Regions from separate parts of the Homo sapiens genome. Here region 1 is linked to region 2. The links come from fine-mapping of genetic effects on plasma protein levels. Region 2 holds a variant in brackets. A gene starts in the other region. All regions are shown on their forward strands.

Region 1 (5,384 bases), not on the chromosome of region 2:
CAGGGTTTCCCCATGTTGGCCAGACTGGTCTCGAACCCCTGACTTCAAGTGATCCTCCCACCTCGGCCTCCCAAAGTGCTGAGATTATACGCGTGAGCCACCGCATCTGGCCTCTTTTGGGTAACTTTTAATTGTAGTGTGTAATTTTTTCCTGCACTTTTTTTTTCCCATAATACACATGACAACTCATTGAACAGTACAAAAAGTTATCTACATAGACTAGGAAAAGTAGATCTCCCTCCCACTACCCTGACCCGAAGTTCCCCTCCCCGCATTCATGTTTAACTCTTTAAAGATGCAATGTTTAGCTAGTGCCTATGTCTAAGGAAACAAAATCACATTTCTATTTTTAAAAATCTGAAGTCAGTTCAATTTATTTTGCTGCTTCTCAGTCATTTTAATTCACTCTAACTAGCACTCAGTGATCCCTTGGGGCCTGATACGAGGTGGGCTTTCAAGGAAAAGGTCTAAGTTCAGACTGCCAGCCCAGGAGGTTGACTCTTCACACTCACTCCCCACCGTAGCCGGCCTGTTCTGTTCTACCCTAATTCTTGTTCAGGAAGAAACGTCTTTAAGGAGTTCCTTTCAGCAACGGGATTCCAGGATTCGAGACAAGTTGTATAAACATTCTCTAGTTGGATGCAGCCCTTTCCATCTAAGAGAATCAAAATAATTTACCATAATCTACTATTCTGCATTTTAAATCACATATAGTCTTTTTTTTTTTTTTTTTTTTTTTTTTGAGATGGAGTCTCGCTCTGTCACCCAGGCTGGAGTGCAGTGGCGCAATCTCGGCTCACTGCAAGCTCTGCCTCCCGGGTTCACGCCATTCTCCTGCCTCAGCCTCCCAAGTAGCTGGGACTACAGGCGCCTGCCACCACGCCTGGCTAATTTTTTGTATTTTTAGTAGAGATGGGGTTTCACTGTGTTAGCCAGGATGGTCTCAATCTCCTGACCTCGTGATCTGCCTGCCTCGGCCTCCCAGAGTGCTGGGATTACAGGCGTGAGCCACCACACCTGGCCCACATATAGTCTTGAATTAGAGTAAGGGTGTCCCCTCCATGAGACATGCAAAATTGCATTTCCTGAAAGTCTGGTAGTGAGCTGGCTGACAAGGTAGGACGACAGACCATGAGGTCCTTGAAGGGTTGTGTCTTAGTTTTCAGCCACAGCGCTTGGTAGAATGCCAGGCACATGGTAGATCCTATTAAATATCCATTGAATAAAATGAACAACACTTCGGGTGCATCAAGTGTATCCAGATTTAATTGAAATTTTTGCCATGAGACTCAAACTTGGTTTCCAAGATGTTGACTCCTGAGTCTTACTATATTCTCTGGAGTTCTGGAACCTGTTTGGTATTCGGAGAGAACTTTCCTCTCTCCTTTTATCTCCTGTCAATATGCATTTAGTACTTGAAGAGGTTAAACTGTCAATTTCGCATGTTATATATCTTGCAACTTAATTTTGCATGTTGTATATCTTGCAACCAGGTTTAAGGACCTTTGGAGCCTAGAAGAATAAATGCCTCACACACAGCAAGGTCACAGCAAAAATAATTAATTTATTTATTACAACAATAAAGGGCAAATCATAATTCCTATGTTTTCTTTAGTTAGAGATTGTCTAACTAATTTTTCTTTCCTTTAATTTGAGCTATATTGGATCAGTTTGCATTTTTCTGTATGCTTTGAGGTGTTTTCTCACGTTTTCTTAAAATAGAAGATCCAGTCTTTTTCAATATCTATCCCTGCTTTCACCACATTACCCCTTATATAGGTGCACACAAAGGGACCCTCATTTGAATCATTGCTAATGGATTGATTATTGTGGATTGTGATCCAATTCTCCACAAACCTGATCTTTAAAAACATTCCAGTTGTCTCATGTTGCCAATAAGTTTCTAACTAGCTTGACTTGCTACTGACTGGACACCTTTCAGTTCCACAGAGAAGAATCACCAACTCATACTGGGTACCTGGGTACCTGGGTGTCTGAAACACCCATTAAACCTGTTGGATGGATGGATGGATGGATGGATGGATGGATGGATGGATGGATGGATGGATGCATGGACAAATGAATGGGTGGATGGGTTGTATACTTGGCCATTCTCACCAAGACAACATACATGGACAGTCTGTCTTTAATACATTTTTCCAAGAATTTTTATAAGGCCAGAGTTGGAAAGAGCCCCCAGATTTATCTATAACAATCTGGGTATGACCCAGGAATCTTTACAACCTCCCTAGTTAACCCAGTCCAAAGTCCATGAGCTGAAACTTAGTGTCTGTTGATCTGCCTGGCTTCTTTTTCTCTTAGACTCCTTGCCTTTCTTTCTGTACATTTTTTCAATCTTTTGACGGGGCAAAGGGAACATGGCTCCTACTGTGGGAAGGGTTTTAGTTGAAATAAAAATTATTCATATTGAGAAAAACCAGCAAATGCTAATTAGGAGAGTGACAGAATCTTCCCCTAAGTTTTAAATACACACGCACACACACACACACACAAACACACACACACACAAAGACAATAAGTGGTTCCTGGGCAGAAAGCTAGGAGGGTTGGATTAGCCCTCCAGTCTAGTCCCCAACCTCCCCAAGCCTCCTGTAGATGGACAACAAGGGTGCTCCCCTTCTTCCCAGCCTGAAGCCCTACTCACTGTAGATGGTCTGATGGGGTGCGCCATCCACATGGCCATTCTTGTGGATCTGCAGGTGGTAGCTGTTCCTGGCTGTGGCTGTGTACAGGTGGATCAGGCCACCCCAGCTGGAGCCGAGCAGTGGGGAGGCATTGGGATAGGCTCTGAGGACGCTCATGCTGCAGACGCTGCACAAGGCACAGACCCAGAGCCTGAGGCGGGCCCCCAACATCGTGCCCTGCTCTGAGTGGCTGGTGCTGAGATTGAAACCTGACACTCCTGTCGGGACTCTCCTGGCCCAGGCCTTACTGGCCTTTTCCTTCTCCCTTGCAAGTAGCTGGTGTGAGGATCCTAGACTGGATTCCCTCCTTTTTGCCGTCAGACTTTTAAAGGGTAGCAGTGTGACATCAAACAGGAAAAACTCCACTGTCCACATCCTCTGTGTTGTAATCAGCCCATTGAAAGAAAGTGCAAAGACCCCGGAGGCGCACGGAAGGCACGTCGGTTCCAGACACACACACCCCTCAATTTCAAGCCAACGCTCCAAAAAATGAATGACGTGTGGGCAAAAGTTATCTGCCACTCTGGGCTGTCTGTTGACCTGTCCCACTTCCATCAGGAAATGTGAAGGCAGCCAGCGGTTCCCAAAAAAAATCCAGCTTCAGTCAAGCAGTCAACCGACTCCTAGGCAATTAATCTCCTGTCGAGTTTACTTATTTTGGTTTTCTTTAAATTCCAATCAGCAAGTATGTATCCAGTGCTTAATCTGTGAGCAGGATTTGGTGGGTAGCTTGCAGGATATAGAGATACATGACACCATCAGGCAGATGGCATCCTCTAAGAACACCCACTTCATGAAAGATGGGAGCTAGGAGCAGGGGCACAAAAGCCAAAGTTGCCATTTTGGGAAGATTTTGAAATGGAAGAAAAAGAAGTAAGGCCTTGAGGTCAGTGAACATGCCAAGGTTCAGTTTCTCAGCTTCCTTAGTCTGGACTTCACTGAATATGCCAAGGTTCAATTTCTCAATTTCCCTAGTTTGGACTATCGAGGGCAACTAAACTAGTAGTCTCTCCAGTAGTAAGGAGACTCATTCAGAGACCTCATGGGGATTGGAACAGCTGCTGGCTGAGCACTGGGGATCCGAGCCTCAGGACAGGGTGTCCCCACATTTAGTGTCTGTACATGAGTGCTCAGCTTGGTGTTGGATGCCTGCCTGCAGATGCTGTTCACAGTGAGCCCTCTGGGAAGCTACACCTGATGTCGGGTGGAATAGTCCTGGCACATACAGTCTAAAGGGGAGCAAGCTACTGGAACACACACCCGAAAAAACACACAAGGAGTTTGCTATTCTTCCAGTTTCCCTGTACTGAGTATATGCCATGTACAGGCATCAAGCTAGACTCATGTACAGGTTGATATAGGAGACAGCAAGATGTGATTCCTATCTTGAGGAGCTCAAATCTAATGCAGGAGGCAGATAAAAATAAGTAACTATAATACAAAATGAGTGCAAGCTTACAGGTATAGACAGAAAGAGATGGCATTTGTTACCCTACATTTGTACAGTTTTTTTTTATAGTTTACAAAGCATTTTCACATCTATTAGCTTATTTGAACCTCACTGCCACTCTGTGAGATAGGCACTCCATGCATTATCAAGATTTTAATACTTTACATGAAGAAATGGAAATCTTAGTGTTTCCATGTCCAAAGGCACAAAGCAAATAAATGGTAGAGCCAGGACAAGGTCTTCTCCTTCCCTAGGCTGCTTCTCCAAAGAATCACAGCAAGAACTAACGCTCATGGAGAGCTTACTGTTCCACTTACTGCTCTAAGTGCTTTACTTGTAGTAACCCATTTCATCTTCAGAATAACTCTTTGAGGAGATGCTGTTATTTTCTTTATATAGATCAGGAAACTGATCTATGCACACAGTTTAAGTAACTTGCCTAGAGATAGAAAGGTAACATGTGGAAGAGGTTGGATTTGAATCCAGGTCTGGCCCCAAGACCTCCTAAGCACTTTTCAAGGTGTCCAAACCCATACAACATGTTAGAGCTAAAGCCATGAGAGCCAGGAGCTTGGTAAAAAAGTGCAGGTGGCAAAGCAGTCCTCTGTTATTCTCTAAAAACCCAGGCTTTTACCCAGGATGAATCTCTAGGACACATGGTGCTTGTCTCCCCAGGGTTGAGTGGAAGAAGTATGACATGAAATGTTTATATGTAAAACAGTCTTCTTTACTAATAGCCACAGAATGGATTATAAATATAATGCTACGTCTTAGCTAATTGAAGAAATAGCTAGCTTTCAGAATTGAGATGCAAATCACTTAGGAACATTTGCCCTGCATTTCTTATTCTGGTTGTGAAAGGTAAAGAGATGGGAAGTAATTATAAGGCAATCAGCAGCCATTGAGAACCTTCTCCATGTAAGAGATGAAAGGGAGGGTGTAGGACTACAAAGCAGGACTAACTCCTCTAGGGGCTCCCAGTGTAACTGAGCAGGGAACATCTTCGTTCAATACAAGGCACTGTGTGGGAGGAGCTTCATTACTAGGAGCAAATTAGTGAAGATGTGGTACTATATTTATAAACCATTCTGTGGCCATTACTAAAGAAGCCTGCTTTATACATAAACATTTAATGTCATACATCTTCCAAACAACCCTGGGGAGACAAGCACTATGTACCCTAGAGATTCACCCCGGGTAAAGACCTGGGTTTCCGAGAGAATCATGGA
Region 2 (5,384 bases):
AGACCTTAATGAAAACTTGCTTTTAATAATGAAGAATGACAGTATCAAAAGTCAGGAAGCTTCTCCATAGACGTTGCAACTAAAATATATATCAGTGAAGATGCTTGTTGCTAATAGGCGGGAACACAAAACAAAATCTAATGTACAGAATGAATTTCCTCTTTGGACTCCTGGCGAGTGAAAGGTAAGTAGATGCTAGAGGCATTGAGCTCTGTCGATTGCTTAGGCCGCATATTTCAGGACTGACATGTATTAGCTCAGTGCTTCTCCACAAGGACAATTCTACCCCCAATCCCAGCAAAAGATGTGTGTCAATGTTTGGAGACCTTTTTGGTGTCACACTGAGAAATACTACTGTCATCTAGTAGATAGGGGTCGGGGAGGCTGATAAACATTCTACAATGCATAGGACAGCCTCCCACAACAATAGCGAAAATCTGATCCATAATATTATAGTGCCAAGGTTGAAAAGCCCTGAGTTAGAAAGATGTTAGGCAGTTGTCATCAAATATTAACAGCTAAAGAAAAGTTTTTTGTGTTTGGACATGTGTCTTAGCTAGGGTTGCCATAACAAGACACTACCCATTGGGTGGCTTAAACAATAGGCATTTATTTTTATCATCGCTCTGGAAACTGGAAATGTGAGACCAGGTACCAGCATGGTTGGGAGAGGGATAACTTCCTGGCTGGCAGATGACTGTCTTCTTGCTATGTGGCAGGGAGAGAGAGAGCAAGCGAGCAAAAGGGAACATGATGTCTTTTCTTACCAAGGCACTAATGTCATGAGGGCCTCACCCTAACAATTTCATCTAACCCTAATTAACTCCTAACAGCCACATCTTTAAATACCACCATATTGAGGGTTGGGACTTCAACATATAAATTGTGGGGGAGGTGCTAACACAATCATTCATTCCATACAAATGTAACTAATAAGGTTAAACATGTATGTAGCATTTACTCTTCTAAGCGCTTTACATGTATATGAACTGATCTAATCCTTGAACAAGTCTAAAAGGAGACAATGACTTTATCCTCATTTTACAGATGAGGAGATTAAGTAACTTGTCCAAGGTCACTTTGGTTGGGGATGCAGAGCCTGGTTTCCAACCCAGGCAGTCTGGCTCTAGGGCCTGTGTTCTTAAACTTGATGTGAAGAGTAATTGACATACTCCATCCGTTGAAACTTCCTCCAGTTAAAACAAATAAGAAATTATATGTAATGACTGCATTGGCGTAAAGAAAAATACAGGTTGGATTCATTATGACGTATTCATTATCATTATTATATTTCTTTTTCCTTCTGATTTTAAAATAAATTGAAATAAAAACATTTTTGTGGTCCTGGGTCCTGACACTATTCCTAATGGAGAAGTCAGCCTTGGTGGCAGTGGGTGCTGTCAGGAACATGATGGATTGAAGAAAGTCAGGTGTGAAAATGATGGGAGTTTCAGCAGCCTGGGAAGCTGCGCCCCTGCTCTGGGGACAGCAGTTGTTCAGCTCCAGCCCACTGCTAAGAAGTGGAGGGAGGTCAGAGAATGAGGGCTTAGTATTGACAAACTGGCAAATGTTCCAATTTTAGAGAAGAAGCCAAGAATCCAAATACAAGTGTTCTTTTGAGTCAATTCAGTTTCTACAAACACTATTATGAAAGAAAGAAAGAAGAAAGAAAGAAAGAGAGAGAGGAGAGGAGAGGGAGAGAGAGGGAGGGAGGGAAGGAAGGAAAGAGGAAGGAAGGAAGGAAAGAAGGAAGGAAGGAAAAAAAGTAACAAAAAGGGAGGAAGGCAGGGAGAAGAAGGACAAAGCATCACATTTGGTAAAGGAAATGGGCTTTGGGGTCAGATATGCCTTGGCTGGTCTACTTGCTAGGCATGTACCTTGGGCAACAGATTTCGTTTCTCTAAATCTCATTTTATCATCTGTAAAATGGGAATAATACTAGAATGCACGTTTACCACCAGGATGTGGGTACTGAATGCGAATTAGATTTGCATCTCATTGTTAAAGTGCGGTGGCATTTCAAACCCAAACGGGAACTTGCAGATCAGATTCCAGTGCTTTCTGGAGCTAGAAAAATGGTATATATGGGCAAACGAGCCAGGTGGGGCCTGTGGCAGACTGGAGAGCTCAGACCCATCTCAAGGGGAAGCTGCTTGGCCAATTCTTGCCATCTGGGGATGTGGCCCATGTCAGACACATCTCCCATTTTAAACAGTAGTTAGGAATCTGGATTGTTTGTGAAATGTCTCATTTATGTTTTTAATCTTAGTAATAGATTCCAATTTTTGAAACTACAAACTGGGGCTGAATGATACATGCCTGTAAACTGGACAAGGCCCAGGTGGTCACCAGTTCATGGCCTGCTCTGAACAGAAGGCGAGTGTCTAGACAGTGTCTTCCTGTCTTATAGGTGCCCTGGTGGCATCTGTAGACATATCTGTAGTCCAACAGGGCTAAGTTCTTACAGATCAGGTTAGAATATTAATTTAGTGATATAGCTCATATAAGAAAATAAGAATTTTTTAATCAGTTGGGTCCTGGACATCGTGACTGGCAATGTCAGTCTGGAAACCGAAGATGTCACCAGGAAGAAAGGACAAAGATGTGTGAGGGATGGAGCAGGGAATAGACTGATTTTTTTTTTTTATGGAAAAGAATAAAAGAGGATGAAATAGAAGAACAAAAGATTCAGACATGCAAATCATAGTATTCTAGAGAAATTTCTAGGCCCAGAAATCATGAGGAAAATAATGTTAGTTTCTTTTTCCACCCTTTCCAATGAGATTTTTCATGAGGGTAGGAAAGTACTTCTCTTATAGAATTTTACAGCTGAATAGAACTAAAGAGACCTTTAGTTTTCAAGTTAAAACATTTTTTTTTAAAGTAAATAAAATAAGAACTGCAGTGAAGAAATGACTGGTCCATAGCCATGGCACATATGAAAATTCCAAATGTGTATGAGGTAAAGCTAGGGCTTTGCATGAGTGAGATAGACCAGGTGGGAGGTTCTACGGAATGGTGGAAACAGGCAAACAAGCCAAGGGTCTGGCCCGTCCAAGGGGGCTTTGTTACTCAGCTGTAGCCAGCTGTGCTAAGCAGAAAGTGGGCCCACCATAGACAGATCTAACTTTTTTTTTTTTTTTTTGGGATGGAGTCTCACTCTGATGCCCATGCTGGAGTACACTGGTGTGATCTTGGCTCACTGCACTCTCCATCTACCAGGTTCAAACAATTCTTCTGCCTCA[G/C]CCTCCCAAGTAGCTGAGAATACAGGTGCGCACCACCACGCCCAGCTAATTTTTGTATTTTTAGTAGAGACGGGGTTTCACCATGTTGGCCAGGCTGGTCTCAAACTCCGGACCTTAGGTGATCCACCCACCTGGGCCTCCCTAAGTGCTGGGATTACAGGCATGAGCCACTGCGCCCGACTGGCAACAGGTCTAACTTTTGAAGGCAAGAGAAAAATATCAACTTTGAGAATGCACTCCCTCAATTTTTAAAAGTTGTCAACAAATTCAAAAGTTTAAAACACATCATGCAAGCCAAAAAAGCCCATGTGAGGTCCACATTTGGCTGGGAACCTGCCAGTCTGTGACTTGCATTAAAGAATCTTCCAGCATCCCACACATTTTCTGACAAGGTAGTTCTCACCTCACTTCCTGTCAATGTTTACCTAAGTAAGGAATGCTTAGTGTGATCATTTTCTTAACTCTTTATCCTGAAGAAGGACCTTCAGTAAAGACAATATTTTAATATTTTACTTCGGTTTCCTATATTTTACTTTGGTTGCCTCCATTATTCACCAATTTGTGCTTGTTCAGCCAGAAATTCAGGAACCACAGGAAAGCTGTTGACTAAAGAAAACCTTAAACTTTCATCCCAGTTCTGTTCACTGTTTTTTATTAAAGAGTTTTCTTTTTATAGTAAACTAAAGAGAGGATGTTCAGAGTCCAGGTTCATGAGCTGCAGGGCTTTTTTTTTTTTTTTTTTTTTTTTTGCTCAGCAGAACCCCAAAAATAGAATTGCAAAAATACAATTTGGTAAATCTTTAATGCCCAAATACTACTCCTTCCCCTAACTAAGTCAGCCACTGGAACCATTTCTGCCTCTGCACATGACACTGACCAGGAGGCTAAGCCCATTATTTATGCACGGCTGATTTTATTTCTCAATTCATTTTGAGCATCTTTAATGCAAAACAACAAGAAAAACAGCAGCAAAACACCCAGCCTGATTATAAGCCTTTTCTCCTGACTTTTAATGCAAACTTGAAGAATGAGCCAGAGATGACTCATAAACTCATGAACTTCAGTTTCTGGTGAAGACCATCATTTAAGACAAAGTCAGTTCCCCAGACTGTGGGTTTCCCTATTTAGTGAACAAACATGTTTACTTTAAAATGCTAATCAAAAAAGTCCTTGAACAGACATTGTCTTCCCCAAAATTACTAAAATAGTTACCATGTTTCAAATTATTTAGAATAGGAAACTAAATTATAATAAAATAATTGAGGATAGAAATCTAACTGATTTTTCACCTATTAAAATTTGGGTCACAAATTATACACACACATATACACACACACGCACCTACACACACATGCATACACATCTCCAAAACACAAGATAGTAAGCACGGGAAAATTTGCCAAATGTCCTAGTGGATTGATCAACAAACAGCCCAGGTAATTCTGCATTTCTTCTTGGTCGAAGTCACTTTTTCTTCCCAACTTCTCACTCAGACTAGGTACAACTAAAATGTAGATAAGTAAGTCACTTTATCTGTGTTTTATTTAAGCAGTACGGTGGTTAGGTGCATGAATGCTACAGCCAGCATGCCTGGTTCGGATTCCTGGTTATGCCACTGTTATTGGTAGCTTAATGTGGAGTTGGTAAGACGGGGATGTGGAAATAGCAGTGTCAATTCGTAACTTGCTTAGGAGGATTAAATGAATGTATAGAACATTGCCTGGCCCTGTGTACAAATTCAAGACTTTGAGCTCAGTTAGTCTGGAGAGCTAGCAGATTCTTAACCTTTGAATCCCCAGCTAAAAACCCTGTCCTGACGAACGTTCATGCACATTTTGACGGCCTTTCAGAGATGCTCAGGCCTTCTCTGCCTCCCTTACTCCCCAGGCTAAGGTCCTCTACTCTAGAAAACACCTAAAGGAACCTGGGGATGTGAGTTACATATGAAAACCACTTTAGTCCTCCTAAGGACACCATACATATTTTCTGAGCCATGGCAAAATCAATAGGTAAACAGGTATTGTTAGAGGGAACTAGGCCTGGTTCCTTTTTCAATGGGGTTTGAAAGTTGTATTTTGTTTATTAGGAAGGAAAGAAGTGGACCTTTCCAGTGGGTGATTCATCATCTGGTTCCTTCAG

Which allele goes with the higher level. Alleles are on the strand shown, and positions count from the first base shown. The strength of an association depends on the size of the effect and on how common the allele is.
As copies of C replace G in region 2, the plasma level of the protein whose gene starts at base 3,006 in region 1 goes up (weak association).

Evidence for each region. PIP is the posterior inclusion probability: the model's chance that the variant is causal. Protein levels are from antibody-based Olink assays in UK Biobank. Linkage for the fine-mapping came from a reference panel and not from the study's own genotypes, which makes the PIPs less certain.
Region 1: it holds the start of FGF23, and the variant in region 2 is fine-mapped to the plasma level of the FGF23 protein (UK Biobank, PIP 0.97).

What each region holds. Positions count from the first base shown.
Region 1 is chr12:4,376,707-4,382,090 of GRCh38, forward strand. FGF23 (fibroblast growth factor 23) reads right to left here and starts at 3,006. Exons shown (of 3, transcript NM_020638.3): 1 at 2,666-3,006. The coding sequence starts at 2,876.
Region 2 is chr20:54,118,171-54,123,554 of GRCh38, forward strand. No RefSeq gene overlaps it. Among named protein-coding and RNA genes, the nearest start is that of BCAS1, 50 kb to the left of the region's middle. RefSeq lists an enhancer at 5,384. The variant G/C (reference allele first, on the strand shown) is at 3,246.